Linked DNA regions of Homo sapiens: region 2 is linked to region 1. Evidence: fine-mapped expression QTL. A gene starts in region 1. The other region holds a variant in brackets. All regions are shown on one strand. Distances are from middle to middle. Region 1 holds the start of ANKK1 (ankyrin repeat and kinase domain containing 1). Region 2 overlaps TTC12 (tetratricopeptide repeat domain 12).

The links.
Region 2: its variant is fine-mapped to the expression of ANKK1 in cerebellar hemisphere (GTEx, PIP above 0.99).

What each region holds. Positions count from the first base shown.
Region 1 is chr11:113,379,959-113,392,533 of GRCh38, forward strand. ANKK1 (ankyrin repeat and kinase domain containing 1) reads left to right here and starts at 7,821. Exons shown (of 8, transcript NM_178510.2): 1 at 7,821-8,111. The coding sequence starts at 7,927.
Region 2 is chr11:113,317,946-113,330,520 of GRCh38, forward strand. TTC12 (tetratricopeptide repeat domain 12) reads left to right here. Exons shown (of 22, transcript NM_017868.4): 3 at 5,343-5,506; 4 at 6,049-6,070; 5 at 6,660-6,737; 6 at 7,579-7,700; 7 at 11,975-12,034. Among named protein-coding and RNA genes, the nearest start is that of TTC12, 9.6 kb to the left of the region's middle. The variant C/G (reference allele first, on the strand shown) is at 5,296.

The DNA.
Region 1 (12,575 bases):
TGTTCATGTCCTTTGCCCACTTTTTATTTTTTATTTTATGTTTCCATAGGTTATTGGGGTACAGGTAGCATTTGGTTACATAAGTAAGTTCTTTGGTAGTGATTTGTGAGATTTTGGTGCACCCATCACCTGAGCAGTATATACTGCCCCCTATTTGTAATCTCTTATCCCTTGTCCTCCTCCCACCCTTCCCCCCAAGTCCCCAAAGTCCATGGTATGGTTCTTATGCCTTTGTGTCCTCATAGCTTAGCTCCCACATATCAGTGATAACAAACAACATTTAGTTTTCCATTACTGAGATACTTCACTTAGAATAGTAGTCTCCAATCTCATCCAGGTCCATGAAAATGCTGTTAATTCATTCCTTTTTATGGCTGAGTAGTATTCCATCATATATATGTATATCTCACAGTTTCCTTTTCCACTAGTTGATTGATAGGCATTTTGGTTGGTTCCACAATTTTGCAATTGAGAATTGTACTGCTGTAAATGTGTGTGCAAGTATCTTTTTCATATAATGACTTCTTTTCCTCTGGGTAGATACCTAGTAGTGGGATTGCTTGATCAAATGGTAGTTCTACTTTTAGTTCTTTAAGGAATCTCCACACTGTTTTCCATAGTGGCCATATAGTTTACATTCCCACCAGCAGTGTAGAAGTGTTCCTGCATCCACACCTGATCACTGCATCCACACCAACATCTACTGTTTTTTGGTTTTTGATTATGGCCATTCTTGCAGGAGTAAGGTGGTATGGGTTTGATTTGCATTTCCCTGAGTGATGTTGAGCATTTTTTCATATGTTTGTTGACCTTTGCCCACTTTTTTTTTTTTTTTTTTGAGACGAACTCTCGCTCTGTTGCCCAAGCTGGAGTGCAGTGGTACAATCTCGGCTCACTGCAACCTCCATCTGCCAGGTTCAAGCAATTCTCCTGCCTCAGCCTCCCAAGTAGCTGGGACTACAGGTGCGCACCACTATGCACAGCTAATTTTTGTATTTTTAGGAGAGACAGGGTTTCATTATGTTGGCCAGGCTGGTCTTGAACTCCTGACCTCATGATCCACCCGCCTTAGCCTCCCAAAGTACTGGAATTACAGGCGTGAGCCACCATGCCGGCCTCCTTTGCCCACTTTTTAATGGAGTTATTTGAAGGCATCGTACTACCTGACTTCCGACTATACTACAAGCCTGCAGTAACCAAAACAGCATGGTACTAGCACAAAAACAGTCACATAGACCAATGGAAAAGGATAGCAAACCCAAAATAAAGCTGCACACCTAACAACCATCTGATCTTTGACAGTCAACAATCACAAGCAATGGGGAAAGGACTCCCTATTCAATAAATGGGATAACTAGCTATCCATATGTAGGAGAATGAAACTGGACCCCTACCTATCTCAATATATAAAAATTAACTTAAAATGGATTAAAGATTTAAATGTAAGACCTAAAACTATAAATATCATAGAAAACCTAGGAAAATACCATTCTGGACATTGGCCTTGGCAGAGACTTTATGACTAAGTCCCCCAACAAAACAAAAACAATTGCAAAAAAAACCAAAAGTTGACAAGTGGGACCCAATCAAACTGAAGTGCTTTTGCATAGCAAAAGAAACTATCAACAGAGTAAACAGACAACCTTGGAATAAGAGAAAATATTTGCAAACTAGGCATCCAGCAAAAGTCTAATATCCAGAATCCACAAGGCACTTAAATAATTCCCATGCAAAATCTTTTCTTGGTTTCTTTTAGTGTACCCAAAGTGGTCTGGCTAACTCTTCATCCCTAAAAGAGAAAAGGAGGAAGGAAGGGAGGGAGGGAAGGAGGGAGGGAGGAAGGAAAGGAAGGAAAGAAGGAAGGAAGGAAGGAAGGAAGGAAGGAAGGAAGGAAGGAAACTTACTCTACATGAATAGTAAGGAAAATAGAAAAAAAAAAAAGAAGTTATAAGAAGCATGACACTAGTCACATTTTAGAAGTCCCTTTCTTTACCTGCAGAGCCAGCAAGCTTTCAGAGTTCCCAAGAAAACCACCTTTTAGTGTTTAAGTCCTTCCCTAGTCCTAGCTTTCCTTCACTCCCCCCTATCCAGGAAGGGCCCAGAGGAGAGCAGAAGGATAGATTTATGGCCAGATCACCAAGGTTGACATAAGGAGGGCATTTTCCCTTTAGAGTCCTGGTAATAGGGACTCAATCTCCCTGGACTGACTCTTTGTTAAATTAAAAAGGGTTAAGTTTAGCATTCCTAGTCTCTTGGACACTGCCAGAGAAGGTATTGACCATGACATCTTGGGCATGCTCTGAGGCTGTTAAGGCCCCATGTTGGAATGATGTTTCTCTGAAGCCCTGGCCACAGCCAAGCATTTCTTCTAAACTGCTTGAGATGGCAGGATGCTTGAGACATCTGTTTGTTATTTTTATATGGACCCAGCCCAGAATCACAATCACCCAAGACCATAAAGAACCTGTGGCCATGATTTTGACAATGAGAACCATGGTTCATGAAACTCAGGGCTTCCATTTTTGGCTTCTTGACACTCAAGGTAGTTTTTCATCAAAAAGCCCTTCAAAAGAGAGACTGGTTTCCTTATTAGGAAGGAAAATCTATACTCTGCCAACTCCAGAAATTGAGTCTTAGAAGGAACTAGTTCGCTCCCTCTCTCCATCGTCTCCAGCCTCAGACATTTAACACAGTGGCCTTTCTCTTTCTCCTTGGGGTTTCTACGTGTCCACAGGGGGCCAGCTGTGTTCCTTAAGGCATTCTGTGGTAAATGTTAGATTACTGCCTTTCTCCTATTATGGGAATATTTTCCTTCCAAGAATATAACATTACCTAGTAATAAGGACAAGAACGAGAAATAGAAGGGGGAAGGAGAAGTAGGAGGAGGAAAAGGAGGAGGAGGAAAAGGAGGAGGAGGAAGAAGAGAAGAAGGGGGCTTTATTTGTATTTTTTAAATGTTCTGCTTGGAGATAATTACAGATAAGCACACAATTTTAAGAACTTATGCAGAGATACCCTCACCCAGTTTCCCCCAAAGGTAACATCTTATGTCACTATAGCACAACATTACAACCAGGAAATCAGTGATACAATCCATAGTCCTTACACAGGTGCCGTCAGTTTTACATGCACTCATTTGTGTGTGTGTGTGCATCTGTGTGTGCATTTAATTTGATGGAATTTTGTCACATGCATTGATTCATGTGGCCACCACCACAGTTAAGATACAGAATAGTTTCATCACAAGGTTCCTTTGCACTAACCTTTTACAGCTACACCCACCTGCCTCTCCCCCAATCTCACCTCTGACAACCACTAATCTGTTCTCCATCTCTATAATTTTGTCATTTTAAGAATGCAATATAAATGGAGTCATACAGTATGTAACCTTTTATGATTGGCTTTGTTCACTCAATAGAATTCTCTGGGGCCTCATCCAAGTGGCTGTGTATATCAGTAGTTGCTGAGTCCTATTCCATAATACAGCACTATGGTGTGTTTAGCCATTCATTGGTTGAAGGACATCTGAGCGGTTTCCAGATTTTAGCTATTGCAAATAAAGCTGCAATGAGCATTCATATACAGATTTTTGTGTGAACACTGTTTTCATTTCTCTGGGATAGATTCCCAAGAGTGCAATTGCTGGGTTGTATGGTAATCATATGTTTAGTCTTATAAGAAATGGCCAAATTCTTTTCTAGAATTGCCATACCATTTTACATTTCCACCAGCGTATGAGTGATCCCATTACTCTACATCCTCATCAGCATTTGGCGTTGCCACTATCTTTTCAGTTTTATTTTTAGCCATTCTGATAGGTAGTTAGTGATATCTTACTTGCATTGCTTAGTGGCTCATGATATTAAACATTTTTTCAAGAACTTATTTGTCATCTGTATATTCTCTTCAGAGAAATGTATTTTCCCATTTTCTAATTTGATGCTTTTTTAGCATTGAGTTTGAAGACCTCCTTATATACTCTATGAACCAGCACTTTGTCAAATATGTGCTTTACAAACATTTTCTCCCCATCTGCACTCTTCTCTTCACCTTCACCAGGTCTTTCACTGAGTGAGAGTTTTTCATTTTGATGAGGTTCAGTTTATCAATTTTCCCTTTTATGGATTGTGCCTGTGGGATTCGGCCTAAGAACTTTTCATCTAATCCTAGGTCCAGAATATTTTCTCCTTTTTTTTTCCTAAAATTTTTATAAGTTTACATTTAATATTTAAGTCCATGATTCATTTTGAGTTAATTTTTCAGGTGTGAAGTATCAGCTGGTTCATATTTTTTGCCTAGGAGTATTCCTAGTATATACCTAAGGAATGTAACCTTTAAAAATATACCTAGTATTTAGATATATTTTATGGATGATAATCATAATAACCATTCCAAAAGGTTGCTGTAAGAATTATAACCTTTAAAAATATCCTAGGTATATTAAACTAATATGATATTATATTGTATTTTTATGTTATATTAGTATAATATTATACTAATATACTAGGTATATTTTTAAAGGTTATAATTCTTATAGCAATGTTTTGGAATGGTTATTATGATTATCATCTATTTTACAGATGGAGAAACCCAGAAAGATTTGATAATGTGACCAAGGTTAAACAAATGCTAAGTGATAGAAAGAAGCCAGGGTTTAAATGCGGGTCTGACTGACTGACTCACTCCCACATTTAAACCCTGTTCCTATTGCCTCATTCAATCCCTTTCACTCTGGGAGTCCTGCTTCCTGAACAGATGTTCCACTTTCCTGCATACATTCCTTTATCCTGACCAACCTCAGTACACAAGCTACCAGAGGCTGGGGCCTGCCAGAACCTGTCCAGGGTTCTCCGTGACATGTTTGCAGGGTGGAGAACAGGGGCAGACTGGGAAACTTCCCTATATGCAAATAGCTTGTCATTCCGGTTTGGGGAAAGGCTCACATCAGATTTCAGCATCTTCTAAAGTATTGCAGAGCTCCTGTACCAGCTCACTTGTCTGGGAGGAGCAGGCTAAAAATCTTAGGTTCCCCAAAGACAATCACACATACACACAAAATTCATTTAATAACTCCAAATCCAGAACACTTCCATCTTCAATCTGCCCAAACAAAATGCACTGATAGAGGTTAGTTGGAAGGACTCAGAGCATTTTGGGGTAAAACTTCTATAGCTAGAACCTGTTCCTTGCCCCTTCTGGTGGGTGGGGGTCATAATTGGACTATAACCACTTCATTATCCATTCCCATTTGTAGGTAGATATGGGTAAAGGTAGAGTTTCCCTCCCAACCCCCCAGCTCTCTCCCCTCCACACACTGGCTGCTGACTTCCCAACCAGCCAGGACCTAGGGACTTCTGCACTCAGACCACTGGAAAGAAACCAGCAGCCTCTGAGTTGACTTTACTCTTTTGCAAATCCCTATACCTCACCCCACTTTTAATGAGAGATCCAGGAGTTCTTTGCCTCTGTGACCTTATACTCAGAAAGGGTCCCTCCACTTACAACTTCTCCCAGAGCTTATCCAAAGACTACTAGGCCTTTGCCCTAGCCCATGTTAGACAGCTGTAAGGAGCAGGACAAGCCCAGTCAAATGATCCAGTCCCTCTGGGTCAATGAATGTATCTATTTTGACTGACTCCTCAGAAGCCTCAGGGGTGCTTGAACCCACAGCAGAGAGTTTCAACAGGTGGGTCAGCAGTAATACGCCCTGACCCTGCAGTTCCTCCACCTCCACCCCTGTGAGAAATTCAGAGGTATTTTGTTCGGGATTCTGGCAACATGCCTTGAGCCCTGGGTGTCCCCTCTTCTAGGAATGATGCTTTCTTCAGTATTCCTGTGACAGTCTCTGCAGGCAGACAATGGCAGCTTCTGGTTACTTCCTCTCCCTGGAGAGCCACTTCAGGTATAAGTGGATCAAGGGGAACTGCTGAAATGACTCAGGCCATTCACCCTTGGTATTTCCTCCAGGAGCTGAGATAGGTCTCGCTGAATGTCAAAGATCGGGCCTCAGTCAAACTTCCGCAGAGCTGGGTGGCTGGTCACCTTCCCAGTCTCCATGTTCACCCTCCCAGTAGAAGGTATGAAACATCCTCTTGACCTCCTGGTCTCCCTGATGACAATGTCCTTTATCACCTTCCAAACTTCTCTGGCAGAGGCTTTAAACTTGGGCAGGCAGGGCTACTCCAGAGACAATGGGTTCTGTTATGCCCTGTCTTGCTCCAGCCAAAGCAAGCTGGGGGCCTCCCTCTGACATATGTTTGGGGGATACGTCCTGCTCCTGATGCAGTTTCCATCATCTCCACCCTCTTCCAGGGAGCATGACTCTCTCTCTTCCTTTTTTGTATTCATAAAAGGCTACTCCCTGATCCTCCCCTGGCCAACCATTTCCATAGAAACTAAGAGACTTGAGTTTGAATATCAACTACCACTTACTAGCTATGTGTCCATTGATTACTTATTGTCTTGAAGCCAGTTTCCTCATCTGTGAATAGAAGATGTTGACCTCATAACATTGTTGCAAGATAAACAGGATAATATATGTAAAGCAATGCAGTAACTGAAATAGTCACTGATCCTGGAACAAAGTGAGTGTTCAATTAGTAGTGGCTATCACTAGTTTCTATGACAACTGTCTCCAGGCCCAATCTTTGATCCTTAATCTGCTTGCCAGAATTCATCCTGGAAGTTGCAGGTAAGTTGTTACAGAGGGAGCAAGTTCTCCAGCTTCCACAGGGAGTCTCTGTTTGCCTATCATGCCTACACTGTTCCCTGGGAGTCTGGTGGGCTTGTGGCATGGACGAGGGGCTCTGCAGGTTTGGGCTGAAGGCAAGGCACTTCCTTGTCTGGTAGGTAGGCTCCTCAAACCTAACAGTGATCACTCTGAGGGCTCCTTGTGGACTTACTCAGCTGTAGGCAAATAGTGGCTGACTCTGCACTCCGTGGCCACAGTTCCTCCAGGTATGCCTGTCTCTGGGCAATGGCCCACTTGGTCAGTGCCCCTGGGGAGACCTGTCTGTTCAAGCACTTGTCATTTTCCCTGCTCTGAGGGTCTCCAAGGTGAGAGGGCAATCCCATGGACCCAGGACCCAGGGGAACCTCCAAGCTCAGCACTGGTCAGGCTCCAGCTAGAGCCTCCTCTCATCCCTGGCAACAAACTGCCCCTAGTAACTGCGCCAAGGAGGCCACCTCCCCCGTGGCCACCCCGAGGCTGGGGTCCATCCCTCTGAGGTTGGATAGAGCGCAGCCCAGGAAGGGAGTCCCCTGCAGACAGGAGCCCAGCCTCCCCCGCAACTCTGTCCCTGCTGACCCCTCCTTGGTAACCTATAGCACACCAAGGCTGGCTAACAAACAAACAAACAAAACCCCAACAAGAACAAAGGAAACATGAAACCAGTCAGACCAACAGATTCAGACCAGAAAATCCCCATTAAAATTGTTTGAGCCCCATACTTGCTGGATAGGGGCAGGGGTCCAGGCCTGAATCCTTCATAAACCATAAAACCTTGAATGCACTGAAGGAATGCATAAACCGATTTCACTTAGCGCTGGGCCTAAATAAACTGGATCCAACTTCTCAGGCTGGACTTCTTCCAGCTTCGGGACACCTTCTCCCAGCATCCCTCCCTAGGGGGAACTGGGGAAAATCAAAGGCTGAGACAGGGGAAATGCGAGGGCTTCGGAGGGACATACCCTCTTCCCCAGGCCCAGGTCGCTCCATCCCTGCTGGGGCCTCAGGGCTCATGTCTGGGATTTCCCCACCTTTGCGGGGCAGGAGCGGCTCCTCTTGGGCGGGGAAGGAGGCAGGGCCGGCTCGTCTCCCCATTCCCCTCTCCCGGACCCGAGGAGCAGGAAGCGGCGGCTCCTTCGGCCACCCAGGCAGCAGCCACAGCGGGGAGTGCGCGGCGCGGGGACAGGAAGAGAGGGGCAATGGCTGCCGACCCCACCGAGCTGCGGCTGGGCAGCCTCCCCGTCTTCACCCGCGACGACTTCGAGGGCGACTGGCGCCTAGTGGCCAGCGGCGGCTTCAGCCAGGTGTTCCAGGCGCGGCACAGGCGCTGGCGGACGGAGTACGCCATCAAGTGCGCCCCCTGCCTTCCACCCGACGCCGCCAGGTACTGCCAGCCTCGCCCTCCCCTTTCTCGGAGGAGAAACTGAGGCCCGGCAAGCTTTGGGCCCAGGGAGCTTGCGAGGAAGGAGTGGGCTGAGTTTGGGGCTGAGGACTGTCCCCCGCGGTATTTCTGAATTCCACCCAGTAGCCTGAGCCTCCCAGGCACACCCATACCTGTCTCCCTAACCAAAATAGAGTTGGCACATAATACCTGTTTGTAGACTCAACAGAGGTCAAAGGCAAGCGGGAACTACCTACCAAAGACGCCTTTATCCCATCTGACCTTCCGAACTTGTCCTGCCTGCTTCCATCCTTCTCTCCAGCGCCTTCTTCCCCCGGTGTCCTGTGGCAATAACTGCTCTTGACCGCTCTCTGCCATCCTCCTACCCACCCCAGCTCTCAGGGCAGGGCTGAGCATCCTGGGAGGCTGTGGCACTTTGCTCAGATCTGCAGGGAATCATGTTCTCTCTTCCCACGGTGGCGGGAGGGAGGAGGCCCCTCCCAATCAGTGCAGGCTGAGGAGGTCAGGGGATGGAGACTGCCCGGCCTGATGGCCTGTCCAGGCCCTTGGAGGGTCAAGTCTGGAGTTCTCTCATCTCTGTTTTTGTTTTTGTCCCTTGCTGTCATGCGCACTACAGCGACGCCTTGACATGCCCCTATTTTTCTCTTCCTACCTCTTTCCTACGTTTCCATTATTCTCTGTCTTCCCACTGATTTGGAATCCAGTCTCATTCCCACTGGAGTTGCATATACTAGCTGTGTGCTTGCACCTTGCAGCCATGAAGAAGACACTCGGGATGTTAAACCTGAGCATGATAACCATGTCCTCCTCCCAAGGCTCTGGGACATCAATTAGAGAGTCCGGGACGGGGGTCTCTCTGACTGGCATCTGGCTTGGATGCTATCTGTGGTTCTCTAGGATTACCATGCAAACTCTTAAGATACAGCCTCAGGTGCCACACACTCAGTTCCCAGGCCTTCCCCCACCTTATGAGGAGAGGAAAAATAAGATCGCCTAAGGCCCACTCACCTTCCTCCCTCAACATCTGCCTGTTGGTTTTGGAGGAGGGTCAGAGTATGCTAGGATTTGTCTAAATCATTTATAGCCTTTTGAATATAGAACGAAAGGAAACAGATGGCAGTGACATGATTACACTGTGAGACATTGATGCTAACTCCTGCCACTTTCCCTTCCCAAGTTCTGGGAATTCCCTGGGTGGAGGGGGTAAGATAATTAATGGTAATTAAGACTTAGTATGTATGGATTACTATACTAGGAGCTTTACGTGCATTACTTTACTAGATCCTCTTTCCAGCTATTCATTCATTCATCCACTTGACAAATGCTTACTGCTCTTCTACTATGTGTCAGGCACTGTTCTACACCCTGGGATTAACGATGAATGCAACAGATGTGTCCTTTCTCTCCGGGAGATTGCAGCCTAGGGGGAGGAAGACATTAACCAGATAACCCCACATGTAAATGTAAATGTGCTACTGTGAGAAGCTTAAGAAGGGGAGATTTGTGGCTCTAGGAGAGCTCATTAACAGAAAGTTTGACTGATATCAGAAAAGGCTTCCTTGAAGAAGTTACACTACAGCTGAAATGTGAAGAATGAGTATAAGTTAAGTAGGTGAGGAGGAGAAAGTTTTCCAAGAACAGACAACAGAGTGTGCAAAGAATCTGTGGCAAGAGGGGCATGGTAAGTACAAAGATGGGAAAAGGCCATGATGGCTGGAGTTGGGAGAGTAAAAGAGCAGTGGAAAACCACTGAGCATTTACAACCAGGTAGCGGTGGTGACCATGGGAGGGATTAATCAGAATTGCAGTATGGAGAATGCATTGGGAGGGGTAGAGTGGATTCTGGTTAAGTTAGGAGATTGTTATCTTCATTCTGATGAGAGACGGATAATAGGGGCTAGAGTGGAGTGTTGGTAGTGGAGATAGGAAAGGAATGGGTCAAGCCATATTTAGAAGGTAAAAATCCACCCGACTTGGTGCTGGATTAGTCATGGGGAGGATCACGATGAGGAAGAGGGGTATTAAAGCTAACTTGATGTCTGGCTTGCCCAAAGGAATGGAGGATCCACTAAAATGTCCACTCCATGAGAGTGTCTGTTTTGGTCACAGCTCTGTCTCCTGTGCCTGGCACAGAGTTGGTGTTCAATAAATATTTATTGAATGGCAGTGTTGACAATTAATGGAGAGACTATGAAAAGAGGCCTAGACTTGGAGAGGAAGATCATGAGTTCAGCTTTGTACCTGTTGAGTTTCAGATGCCTTTAAACAACCAAGAAGAGTTGTCATGGACATCAGAGTAAAGGTTGGTGCTAACAATATTAAAACTTGGGAGTCATTTGTTATAAGTGGTCATTAAAACTAGGGCATCAGGCTGGGCCTGGTGGCTCACGCTTGTAATCCCAGCACTTTGAGAGGCCAAGGCTGGTGGATCACCTGAGGTCAGGCAAGACCAGCCTGACCAATATGGTGAAACTCCATCTCTACTAAAAATACATAAATTAGCTGGGCGTGGTGGTGGGCACCTGTAGTCCCAGCTACTCAGGAGGTTGAGATAGGAGAATTGCTTGAACCCAGGAGGCAGAGGTTGCAGTGAGCCAAGATCATGCCATTGCACTCCAGCCTGGGCAACAAAAGTGAGACTTGGTCTCAAAAAAAAAAAAAAACAAAGCAAAAAAAAGGCATGGAGGAGATGCATTCATTCCAAGCACTACGTGAAAAAAACAAAGTCCTTGCCCTCATGAAGCTTATAGTCTAAAGGAGGAAGACAAAATAAATAGCAAATGAATAATAAACTTTTTAGCTATAGCACTCATGACCACCTGACAGTTCTTGATTAAAATATCTAAGAAGGGTTGAGAAGTCTGATTTTCCAAGAAATGGGTTGGTCTAAAAATATTAATGCCAGGGCCCTCTGTGTATGGGGAATATAAGAGTTGGAATGGGGTTGCTTTTTTATGTAGACTTCTCTGTGAAATCCATACTAATTAGGTACCATTTGAGTAGAGATTTGAAGGAAATGAAGGGGTAATCCATGTGGCTCTGTTAGGGAGGAGTGTTCTAGGCAGAGAGAACAACAGGTGCAAAGGTCCTGAGGTGGGACCACACTGGGCATGGTGGAGGAACAGTGGGAAGCCCGTGTGCCAGGGGCACAATGAGAGGAGGGTGATTAGGAAAGGAGGTCAGCAAGCTATGCCTGGCATTGGGGACAAATCTTGTAGGACTTTCTCAGCCATGAAAGAACTTTGGCTTTTACTGTGAATGAGGAGAGCCATTGGAGAAGGGCAGTGACATGTTGTGACTTAGATTTTAAAATATGACTTTGGCTGCTGGGTTGAGAATAGATTGTGGAGAGGAAGCGGGAGAAACAGAGTCCAATTAGGAGGCTTGGGCTGAGATGCACCTTGGGGGAGAGGTGGTGAGAAGTGGTCAGCTTGTTGCTCGACAGTATTTTGAAGGTGGTGCTGGCAGGATTTGCGAAGACTTGGCTGTGGGAAGTGAGAGGAAGAAAGGAGTCGAAGATGACACCAGGGTCCTATTCTGAGGACTAGAAGGACAGAGGCCCCATTCACTGAAATGATGAAAACTAAAGGAAGAGCAGGTTTCAGGGGAAAATCAGGAGGTTAGCTTCAGACACATTTGGTATTGAATATCCAATTGGAGATGATGAGGTTGACTATAGAAAGATTATAGAGGGAGAAGAGCAGAGAAGAAGGGCTTGGACTAAGCCCCGTGGTCAAGTAACAGGATATGAGCCTGCAAAGAAAACAGAGAGGAAGTGACCAGACAAGTAGGAGAAAAGCAGGAGAATGTTGACACGTGGCTCAAGTAACGAAGTTTCAAGAAAAAGAGTCAGAGATCTGAACTATACACTGAGAACTGAAAATTATTGGTTAGATATAGCAACATAGAGGCTGTTGGTGACCTTAGCCACAGGTGTTCAGGGGAGTGCAGGTACCAGAAACTAGACAAAAGTGGGTGCAGCAAGATGATGAAGAGGAGAGACAGCAGTAAATGCTCTCAAGACTTCTGGGTAGGAAGCTATGAAAGAACTGTGCAAGGTAGTTACAATTATTCCCAGTTTTTAGTTTAGAAACTGAGGCCCAGAGGATTCCCTTGCCCAAGGTCATACAGATAATAACGGGTGAAACTGGGATTTGAAATCAGGGCAGTGTGATTCCCACATCCCATGCTTTTTTCCATGCCATGGCAGATGTCATTGGTTCCTGTGAACCCAAGAGGATGAGAGAAGACAGATTAAAAATATCACAGAGGTGGAGAAGGGATCTCTGGCACAAGTGAACAAGAATAGGAGAAACCTACACTAGCCAACATGTCCAGATGCCAGGAAGAGCATGTGGTTTTTCCTGAAGGTTGGGGCTCTCCAGCTGGCTTCCCAGGGAGACCCCGGGAGCACATTGCCAGCAGTCTCTGACTACAGCACCATCA
Region 2 (12,575 bases), 62 kb before region 1:
ATTGAGCATTTGAAATATGGCTTATAACTCCACCCTGTGGTCTAGTGCTTAGGGTTCTGTGTGTTTGTGGCTGCAGCCCAGGTTTGAAATGCGGCTTGTTTCAATTAATTTAAATTTATGTAGCCACATGTGTATAGATTCTGTACATTTACTTCTTGGGCTCTTGCTATGTGTTGAGTGTTGGTAAGGCCTAGAGAATACAGTCAAAGAATTATTCTTTTCATGGTATTAATAGTCCAGTGGAGAAAACAGATATTAAACAGTAATTTCAAGTATGCAATATGAGACACAGAGAATTACAAAGTGTAGGGATCTAACCCAGCTTTGGGAGGTTGTATTAGTCGGCTAGGGCTGCTGTAACAAAATAGACTGGCTGGCTTAAATGACAAAACTTTATTTTCTTAGAGTTCTGGAGTTTAGAAATCTAAGACCAGGGTGTGAGCAGGTTTGGTTTCTTCTGAGGCCTCTCTCCTTGGCTTGCAGATGGGCACCTTCCCGCTGTGCCCTCACATGGTCATCTCTCTGTACGTGCATATATTTGGTGTTTCTCTTCTTACAAGGACACTAGTCATATTGGATTAGGGCAATGATTAGTTACTTCTTTAAAGGCCCTATCTACAAATACAGTCATACCAGGAGTTATAGCTTCAACATGTGAATTTTTGGGGGGGATGCAATTTAGTCCATAACAGAAATTAAATAAAGTTTTCCAGAAGAAGTGAGATTTAGGCAAAATGTGAAGAGTGAGTCGGAGTTGGTCACTGGGAAAATGACAGGGGAGTGTCCTGGGTGGGAAGTAAGGAGGTAGGAAAGCTAAGAGTGAAGAAAGAGTGTGGTGCTTTTGAGGAACTAAAAGAATAAAAAGCCCCAAATGTCTGGAAAGAAGAGATCAAGGAGAGAAGAGTCCCATCTGAATATGGAGGGGCCAGATTAGGAAAGACCTTGGAAACCATGGTAAGGAATTTGTGTTTACCGAGAGCAGTAAATCAATTCCATCTAATTTATGTAATGACTCTTCCCCCAAGGAGGTGGAGCATCTCTACCCCTTAAATGTGAGATACATTTAGTGACTTGCTTCCAAAGAGTACAGTATGGAAAGGGAGGGAAGAAAGTAACTTTACAGTGGAAAAGGTTGGCAAACACAATTTCAGATAGATGATCAAGGTTAACCTCCTGATAAATCACACTGATGGCATGCATCCCTGATACGCCATAATGTGCCATGGTCTTTTTCCCCAAATCCTGTAACTCCAGTCTAACCGTGAGAAAAATACCAGATAAACCCAAATTGCAAGGTATTCTATGCAAACTCATAGAATGTCAAGGTCATCAAAACTGTCAAGGTCATCAAAATAAGGAAAGGGTGAGAAATTGTCGCAGCCTAGAGAAGCCTAAGGAGACATGACTAAATGTCGTGTAGTGTTCTGGATGGGATCCTGGAATAGGAAAAGGGCATTAGGGAGAAAAAACAATGAAATTAGAATAAAGTGTGCAGTTGAGTTAATTTAAAAAAAAGTTAATTAAAAGACATGAAAGAAGAGCTAAATAAATGGAGACGTATTTAATCCTAGGAAGACTTATTTGGTAAAAATGTCAATTTTTAAAATATTCTATGCAGTAAATACAATTTAGATCAAAACCCGCAAAGTAGTATGTACTAAAATTCAGCAAGCTGATTCCAAAGTTTACGTGGAAGAGCAAAGGACCAAGAAGAGCCAAGAAAACTCTGCAGGAAAAAAAAAAAAAGCAGGACAACTTTCCCTACCTGACATTCAAGATTTATTATAAAGCCATAGTAATCAATGCATGGAGGTTTTCGTGCTGGAAAGGACAATCAGGGGAAAGGAATGAAGAGCCTGGAGAAGATTTGCACACATAACAGGGATGATGAGACACATTGCTGGCAGGGACTTCTCAACAAATAATGCTCCTGCCCTACGTGAAAGTCAACTCTAGGTGAATTACATACCTTAGTAAGAAAAAAACTTTAAAACTTTTATAAGACACCATAAGAGAGTATATTTATAACCTTACTGACACAAAAGACCTAAATTGTAAAGGAAAAGATGGTATATTTAACACACTAAAATTAAAAAGAAAATCTCTTCAACAACATATTCCATAAAAACAAATGAAAAGACAAAGAATACCCAAGGGGAAGATGTTTGGAAATACATGTAACCAGTCCAGAATATATACAACTGATACGGGTAGGAGATGGGAATAGTGGATAGAAGAGGGTGGTTCCCTGGCAAAGACCCCACCCTCAAGCCGGGAGATCTGCAGCGCTAAGTGGAAACAGGCATTTCTGTTTTCGTGCCCAAAAAGTTGCCTTTTGGCCTGCCATGCTCCCCTATCCTGTGCCCATGTAAACTCTGAACCCCAGGCTCCAGAAGCAGACGAGCAGGTGAGATGAGGACACAAGCAGACAAATGGCAGAACGACACAGTAGAGAAAAGAGGAGGAATGTCTGAACGCCGAGAGGAGTTTGGCTGGGAGCAGCCAGAGGGGAGTTGGGCCACTGGATGGCCAGGCTCCAGGGGAAGATCATCTTTCCCCTCCATTCCCCCTTCCAGCTCCCCATCCATCCCACTGAAAGCCACCTCCACCACTCAGTAAAACCCCACATTCATCCTTTAGTCCTGTGTGTGACCTGATTCTTCCGGGGATGCTGGGCAAGAGCTCGGGATACAAAAAGCTGTCACTTCCCTCTGCCCTTGTGAAAAGGCAGATGTCCGTCAAGCTGGTTAACAATCAAGTCGTCCGCAGATGGCAGGGCTAAAAGGACACGCTGTAACACGTGCCCAACTGGGCTCCTGCACTTGTCCGTCTGCGTTCTCCCCCTCCCCTCAGGGGTTTGAGCAGTGGTGGTGACTAAACAGGCAAGCCACACCCCTGTCGCATGTCCTGCGAGGGGGATCAGAGAACTCCCCTGTTTCACAATCAAATCAACCAGGCATGGTGGTGTGTGCCTGTAGTCTTTGCTACTCAGGAGGCTGAAGCAGGAGGATCGCTTGAGCCCAGGGGTTCAAATCGAGCCTGGACAACATAGCAAGACCATCTCTTAAAAAAAAAAGAATTTTTTAAAAAAGAAATTATATTAACTAATAAGAAAGAGACAATGACCCAATAGAAAATTGGCCAAGGATAGGAGTAGGCTCTTCGTAGAAATCCAAATGGGTGCAAATCAATAAGAAGATGCTCAATTCCAATCAAATTCAGCGAAATGCAAATTAAAACAATGAGATACCATTCCCATCCATTACATTGACAACAATTAAAAAGTTTAACCCAGCAAGTGATGATAAGAATGTAGAAGAATGGGAACTTCCTCTTGTACTCTTTTGTAGGAGTAAAAATTGGTACAGCCATATCCTGAAGGATATGTAACATGTGCACAAGGAAATATGTACATACAGGTATTCAATTCAGCATTTATTTACTTTAGAAAAAACTGAAAAACCACCTGGCTATCAATAAGAGAATGGATTAACTATGGTATATATAATGGTTTAAATGAATCAACTGGAACCATGTGTATCAAGAACACATCTCTAAAGCATCTTAAGAGAAAAAAGTAGGTTGCAAATGAATGCACATTTTATACAACTATTTTAAAAAATTGTTTAAATATTACATACACAAATATTCTGGTAGATTGCAAGAATGGTTACAAATTCCTTTCTTCCCATCAAGAGTGGAGCCTATTTCTCTGCCACTTGAATCTGGGTTGGCCATGTGTGTTGCTTTGGCCAAAAGGATGTTTGCAAACATGACACAAGCAGAGGCTTGAAAAGTGCATTTGAATTAGGGCTTGCACTCATACCACTCATGAGAAAGTAAGACACACTTACCCGGGTTGCTTGCATTTCTCAAGCCAACAGCCAGCAGACTTTCTAAAGCAGAGCCACTTAGATGACTGACAGTTGACCATGGATATATGTGTGAGTCCAGCTGAAACCAGAACTGGCCAGCTGAATTCAGCTCAAATTGTTGACATAGATAATTGTAAACTAAGCCACAAAAATGGTGGTTTGTTTCAAACCACTAAGTTTTGATGTGGTGTGTGATGCAGCAAAATCTAAATGATACAAATACTAAGTATTAAAGCATGCTGGAGAAAAGATACCATCAACTTATAAATGGCATAGAAACAAAAATATTATATTACTTTCGGTATGCTTGAAATATTGTACAATTAAAAATTTATAATTTCCTTGAAGACTCAGTGGGAAATGAAGAAATTAGAACAGGAAAATGAATTAAGAAGTTTAATTGTGAAGGGGAGGAGACAGAGCATTAGGAGAGATTTAAAGTACATAATTTAGAAGGAAGCTGGTCGAATGGAATAGGTTGAAAATATTGCGCAATAGGATTATTAATTGGTGATGCAGCGTTCCTGATTATGCAAAATATGACAATGGAATCCTGGGCCCAGGATGAGGGACTAACCTTACAGAAGAATGGGCACCTTTTCCTGGTAGTAAGGAAGGATGGATGTAGGTATAGGCAGTTTTGTAGTTTTAATAGCAGGAAGTCGATGGCATCTCTTTCCTCTCTGAATTGATAAATAAGGGCATCTTTTTGAGATGGTCAGGTTTAGATTGCAAACTGTTAAAAGTCATTGGGGGAGTGACAGGATATCTTGCCCAGGATAACAAGGATTGCTGGGCATCACTGAAGGTCCAGTTGAGTTTGAGTTTGGACCAGTCCCCCAGGCATCTATCTGTCTCCCTCAGTACATAGCATTCCTAATGCAGACTGGTAGAATTGGGTAATTGGAATTATGTAGAGCTGGAATTTTGTCTGTTAGGTGAGATAGCAGGGCAAGGGAGTTGAGTATATGGGCAGGATGGCTGCTGAGTGATTGACCATGGAATCTAAGCTGGATAAGCAGTAAAGTGAAGACAGGTGAGGATAGGGTTAAGGGCTGCTGTTTTGCGATTTTGAGCTGCCTGTACTTACATGTTTGTCTCCCACACAAGTTCATAAACTCTTCAAAAAAGGATCTTTTTTTATTCATCATTGTTATCTATAGCATCAGCATAATATCTAACTCATAATGAGCTCTCCATAAATTATTGTTGAATTGAATAATGGCTTAAAACTCTGTTCCTTAAAGCTAATAGCTATACTCACCTGCAACTTTTTCTAGGCAAAAAAAAAAAAAAAAAAACCTGTTGTTAATTTTTTCTCATTGGTTCTGCTTGCTCTATTTTGCTTTCTATTGCTCTATTTTTTTCTTTAAGATCTTTCCCATGCATTTTATGCACCATCCTTTCTAGTGAATAGAGT[C/G]TTTTGAATATCTTGTTTGATTAAGTCACACCTGATTTCTTCTCTAGCCAATTTAATTCAGGAGATGAATTCTGATGACCCAGTTGTGCAACAGAAAGCTGTCCTGGAGACAGAAAAGAGACTACTGCTTATGGAGGAAGACCAGGAGGAGGATGAATGCAGGACCACCTTGAACAAGACTATGATCAGTCCTCCACAAACTGCTATGAAGGTTTCTTTTTCTATTGAGAAGTTATATAAGTACTTACAGTGAGAAGACCTACACCTAGGCAGTAGTTTAATCTCAAACTGTCCAGCAAGGCTGAAATGGTCTTTTGTTTCTTAGATTTATTTTTTATAAGAAAGTATAAAATTTGATTTTTTTTTTCCTTTGATCTTTCTGGGTTATCTTTAAACAACCCTTTGGATCTATTTTAATGGAAATTTCCCCTCTCCACCCCCTGAGCTTGTGTGATATATTTAAGCTGTACCTTTAAGGTAATGTATTCTAACTCATTTCCAACTCATAAGCCACAGCTGAGGTCCCTTGACCTGGGCAGCCTTGTTTTGCAGACTCGGTCCCATAGCAATTGTGCCCATACTCAGATCTCCTGATTTAAAGCAAGCCCCATGAATTCTGAGCCCTTCAGTTTTGATGGTTAAAAGAAATGACCTCTTGTTTGTAATTGATTTGCCTTCTTGGTTTATATACATATAAATTAGAGTGGTTTTTGAAATTTGTTTCTTTGTTTTTATGGTAACCTACGTCTACAGAGTGCAGAAGAAATAAACTCAGGTAAGGACAGCATCTCTCTTCCCAATTTTCATTCTTTATATAGGACCAGTTTTGATTGATTGTAGCTCCCAGACCCTTAAATTATTGCCTTTGAGCTTACAAACAACCTGTGAACAAAAACCTACTGATCATCCCATTCTGTTACTAGTGATCAGCGGGAATGTCCCTGAGAGGTTTTTCTTTATTTTCTCTTGGTCAACCTTTTGTAAACTCAATTCAGTTATTCTGTATCATCCAATTTACCCTGTTCAAGGGATCCAGATAGTTTCTCTGTTGCTCAGCTCAGAAGCTCATTATGCTAAACGGAACAAAAAAATCTCTCTTCAAAGAAAAACTCTTTTAAAAGACATAATTCAAATTTGAAGCACAGTCATAGCCATCATGTGTAATAATGCATCACACAGATTACCATTTAATGTCAAATGAAGAAAATGTCATTTTAGTTGCCTCAGAATGGTGTGTGTGCGTGTGTGTGCCTGTGTGCATATGCATACGTGTGGCTCTAAAGTAACACTTCGAATTTGAGCTAAAGAACTGATTATAGTATTTGGATTTTTCTTTTTAATATCTGAAATTACCCTGCTGTCAGAGGCCTTCTTGGCATCTGTGGAGAAGGATGCAAAGGAACGAGCCAAGAGAAGAAGGGAAAACAAAGTCTTGGCGGATGGTAATTGTCAGTCCTTACTTTTCAATGGCTGGGATGATTTGTGCTAGAAAGAGCACACGAAGGCCTGTATGCTGACATTTGAGGACATCTAGATTCCCAGTGGTGAGGTTTGTGATGGGCTTGAGGCAGTGGGACCTGGCCAGAAGGAAATCATTGATGGTCTGTTCTCTGTTCCTGCTGCAACAAGCAGAGGGTAGGATACACCTACCTCCAGTGAAACCTCTTTCTGAAGCTTCCCTGTGCACTTAGCAGAGCAAAGTGAATTGTACTAAACAATGCTCAGGAAGTAGTGGGGGGTGAGAGTGAGCTGCCACTGGCTAGCCTAAGGCATAGATGAAGAAGTGGAAAAGAAAAATAAAACAGCTGTGAGATAGGAGAGGAGACATCAAGGAAAAGGAAGGGATGGGATTGTGTATGTTGCAGGGAGATACATATGATAGAAGAATGTTTTCACTTTTATTTTATACCACCCAGGGCTGTGTGTGCTGCAGGTCTGAATGATTCCATATTTGTTGGGAAAATTAATTATTTGACCCTCTTTATGAGACACCGAATGCACAGATTTGGTCTCTGTGGCAAGCTTAGTATGGTTCTCAGCCTCAATGCAGAAACATTTACTTTTTCTGAGAATCTACTTAGAAGACATGGGTGGATTTGGAGGAAAAAAAATACTTGAAGAAGCTGGTCCTGAAGTATCTGCAGAAAAAAACAAGTGTCAAGTCCCTTTAGGATCGATAGAAGTGAAGACCTTCGAAATAGAATTGGAAAATCGGGGGAATAAAGTCTGAGAGATTTTCTGATGTGTGGTGAGAGCTCACCTGTGTAACTTATATTCCCATAGCCCTAAAAGAAAAAGGGAATGAAGCATTTGCTGAAGGCAATTATGAAACAGCTATCCTGCGCTACAGTGAGGGTTTGGAGAAGCTGAAGGACATGAAAGTGCTGTACACCAACCGAGCCCAGGTCAGTGAGGCAGGGATGTATCCATGGGGCTTTCTCAGGGAATAGTTGCCACTAAACTTGGGAAAACAAAGATGAGGCTAGATGTTGGGCTGGGAAATGTTTATAAGAACTGGCTCTTGTTTTAAGTGTGGGAGGAGCTGACTTATACACAGCATTTACCAGTTTCCATGATGCAAATATTCTCACCATGATCTAATTTGGAATCACTGCAGGAGGACTTGGGAAGAGCTGTCCATTATCAGCTCTCTCCATAGTATAAGTCAGCTCCATCATATCACTGATGGTGACCATGCACTTGTCCCTGTGGATAAAGGAGAAAACTAGTGGAATGAAATGACCTATGGGACCTTAGAATTCTGCTACCAACATATTTCTTCAGCCTCCTTTTTTGGTACTAGTCTTAACTCCTAGCGGATGCCCACCTGTTAGTTTCTCATTCATTGTATCAGTCTCTCTTTAAGATTCTGCGACAGGGATAAAGTGGATAGCCAATGGTCCTGGAGCCAATTTCTTGGAAATTTTGGGTTTCTGAAGGTTTTTATGCATTAGTATATGTCACAAATGAGCTCAATTTCCTGGAACACCAGGTAAAAACCACCCAGATGTTTATTTACTACTTAATGAAGGGATAGGCTGATAGCTCTCAACTGAAACAAAACCATCACCTGTGACCTTATCTTTGAAAAGTAGTTTAGTTTTTGTGTGGTAGAGTTCTCTGCTGGACAGGCCTGAAAAATTGGCAGATTCATGGACATGATTACCCCATGGTCAGAATATGTCAGCAGGACCTGTGTGAGGTGGACTTGATGCCCTGTCATTTGCAAGAGGGAGAGGCTCAGCAGAGTCCTCATCAGCTCTAATTTCCCTAACTCGAGTTTAAGAATGTCTGGCTCTGGGATGTTGAGGAAGAGGACTGGAAGCAAGAAACAGGACATTCGGAAGCCGAAACATATGGGGAGTGACAGTGACTTAATGATAAATAAATCCAAGCAGTATAATCTCACTAGTTTAGCAATTTGGATATGTTAGACTAGAGTTGAAGTGTCATTTAAACTATCCCAATTTTGGAGAAAACTTGTTATAAGGAAGTGAATCGGTAAAAAAGATGGCCAGAGGTTGATTTAGCAGTACATTGCATTACCCGAACAAGATTATAAACTTTTTGAGGGCAAAAACTGCCATATACTTTTTCCCCTAATGCTTTATTTATAGCAGATGTTCAATAAATCCTTTTTTAGTTACATAACGTTAAAAGCACAATAAGTCCAATTAAGGGAGTTAAGTTTCTGTTGACAATTCAGAGGCATCACTTAAATGCAAGCAATTAATAGAATAATTATAGTTCCTTCTTATTTATTACCAAATTTGGTCTCTAAAAACATCTGCCTACTGATGCTTATTCAGTTGTGTTACTCTGAAATTATTTGAAAGCAACAAAATTGAATTGCTTTAAAAAAGTTATATAATTTCAGACATATCTAATTCAGACTGTCTATACTCTGATTCATCTAAATTATATTTTCACTGCACTCATTTTTAAGCAGCACTTTGATTAGTTCTGAAGAATCACATTAAGAATGAATGTGGATAAATATAAGGAAATGTAATGAAAAGGTTTGAGGGAGTGATTCCTCTCAGCTTTCCCAAGGAGAAAGCTTATGCAGAGACAAAATAATGGACAATGTGCTCCCTGGTGTTACAAACCGTTTGAACCATTGACTATTTTTAAAATGCTTCCCCTGTATGCATGCAGTGTCAGAAAACACTTAATAAGGACCCTGTAAATTGAGTGTTGCTTGCTAGAGAGAAAACCTAACCTTTCATTGCTTTGTTTTTCCCCTGGAGTTAATGTTATGATCAATAGATTGCCGGTATAATTTAGATAAATCTGGAGTTTAATTGCTGTTTGGAAAAAGTAGTTCCTTTTTAAAATGTGCAAAAGCAAAAGAGATTGAGGAAGTTATAGGGTGTTTAATCCAAGCCTTAAGAGAGAAAGAAAAAAAAAAGTAAAAGGCTGTGTAGAGAAATTGTTGGAACCCATAAAGACTTCTTCAGAGTCTGCATGTATCCTAAATAATAGTGCCATGAAATCATGGCCACAGCTGTCTAGAATGATGCCAGCTTCCTCTTCACATCCTCTAATTTTCAAATGAAACCTGAGACCCTGGAGAAAAGGATGATGCTTTACAGAACAGATAGCTCAAAGAGTCGTCTTCTCTAATTAGTACAGAACATGAGTTAATGAAAGCACCACTCGCAGCTTCCTTGCTATGGGAGCCAAGAGCGGCATGATTTCAATTCATTTGCTGGCTGTTGCCTACTCCCTCCTCACTTGGGTTGGATACTTGGATTCCCTGTGAGTTGCAACATTGACCCCACAATTGGCTTGTCCATGTAAGTATCTCATGAGGTTCGTTGTTAAGATTGTGTTGCAGTGCCCTGGTACAGTTTTGATCATGGACAATCCTATGTGTAGTACTGGCTTTATTATTGGTTGCTGATGGAACCCTGGAAAAGCCACCACTCCTGGTGCTTGGCTATCCTTTCGTACAAATGGGATGATCGATGCTGCCTCTCAGGGAGCTTTCCAGAAGAAGAGTGCTTCAGAGTTACTTAGTGCAATTTGATAAGACTTTATTGACCACTTACTGTGTCCAGTAATTAATAGAGAGGTTATAGTAGCCATTGTGCTTGTTTATAGTCTTTCATTTGTTTATATTCCTCTAGTCCTTAGAAACATTGAACTAAGTTCTCAATCAGTTCAGTTTGAATGGATCACGGAATTCTGAGTCAATTCTTGATTTTCAAGATTTTCCCCAATTCTAGGGGATTCTAAAAGAGTGCCCCAGGCATTTGATACTAAGGCTTCATGGTGATGCTCTGACTCTCATATGTCACTCTACTTCTTTCATTTTTTTTTTCTGCTGTGCTCGGGAGGACAGAAGCAGAGCTTTATTATCTTTTGATAACAGCGTTATTGAGATATAATTCACATACCATACAGTTCACCCTTTTATAGTACACAATTTAATGGAATTTTAGTATAATCACAGAGTTGTGCAACCATCACAATCAATTTTTGAACATTTCATCATCATCCCCCAAAAAAGCTCCATCTTCAACTGTCAACTCCCCCAATCCTCCCATTACTACTCCCAGCCCAAGATAATCACCAATCTACTTTTTGTCTCTATACCTTTGTCTGTTCTGGACATTTTATATAAATGAAATCATACATTTGTCCTTTTATGACTGGCTTCTTTCATTTATCGTAATGCTTTTAAGATTCATCCATGTTATAGTATGTATCAACTCCTCTTCATTTCTTTTTATTGCTGAATAATTTTCCATTGTGTGGATATACCATATTTTATGTATCCCTTCATCACTGATGGACATTTGGATTGTTGCCTTTTGACTATCATGAATAATTCTGCTATGAACATTCATGTGTAAGCATTTGTATGGATGTATATTTATATTCTTCTTTGGTATATACCTAGGAGTAAAATTACTGGGTCATATGGTAACATATTTAACCTTCTGAAGAACTTCCAGGCTATCTTCCAGATGGGCTGTGCCATTTTAATGCCCACCAGCAGTGTATGAGAGCTCTAATTATCTGTCTTTTTTATCCCCTTTATCATTTGGTGTTTTTCTGGAACATTCACAGCAGGGTAGACTCCAGAATCCAGCTCTTCCTTCTTGGATGTGGCTAGTGAGCTGGGTATTTTCTCTGTCCCTCTAGATCCTTCCCTGCTTTGTGCCCTGGAGGGCTGACCTGTGTGGACTGGCTCCTTGGCTTCCTAGCCCTCTAGCTTCCATTTGCATTCAGCCAATAAAATGAGAAGGAAGGAGGAAAAGTGAGATTGGGGTATTTATTCTCCTGGCCTTCGGCTCTGGTGAAGGCCTCAGCTCATGTCAGGCAGTTCTTTTCGCAGAGCTGTCCTCCCACATTTTGTTCATTGCTCCCTCCTTCTGCCCCTTCCATTACAGCAGTGGTAATGGCTGTCCACTGTTGCTAGCCCTGCGATTCTGTAGCATCCCTTGTCAGGTTCCCTAAGCCCTGCCTTCACCGTGGAAGAGGTCCCTGTATTCAACTCTCCTCAGTTGCCCAGTGCAAGTGTGCCATCTGTTTCCTGGCAGGACCATGACTGATCCAGGTAGGGGATAGTTCTCGCTGACATTCTACTGTTCGAATGTTCTTTCTGTGTGAACTGAAAACTGCCTGATGCAGAATTGTGTGTGAATATCAGCTGTTGGTTTCATTACAGGCTTATATGAAACTTGAGGACTATGAGAAGGCACTGGTGGATTGTGAGTGGGCTCTCAAGGTAAGAGGGTATTTCTTTTCCCACATGATAGTGTTGGGCTGAAGTAGATAGAAGGCAGCTGCCAGTGTATCAAGATAGGAAAGGGTATAGCCTCTGTAGCCAGAGCTTCAGTTTCCTCATCTGTAGAATGGGATAGAATAGAATTGTTAGGAGGGTCACGACAATGCACAGAAAGTGCCTAGTTCCTAGAAAGCAATCCAGGGAGCTGCTGCTATTGAAGTTTCAATGTCTTATTTTACTTCAGCTCCTTCTTTACTATTGTGTTATCAGACACTTGGTTCTATGTGGTAGTGGAAATGCCTCCTTCTGTCTTCTAGAGCCAGCCATTGGAGCTTATTTCTGCAATGCTGTTCTTCCTTGTCAGTTTGTGTTTTTTCCCTCCAGCCCTAGTAATTTGGAAATATAACATCCTCTATTTGTAGAGGAATAATCAGAAGAAAGAATTCCTATTTTTCAACTTTAGTCAGGCCTTGAGCAGATAAAATAATTCTACACATGGCATTTCCTCTGAAATCTGCCAAAATAGATGGTCAAGGATGCA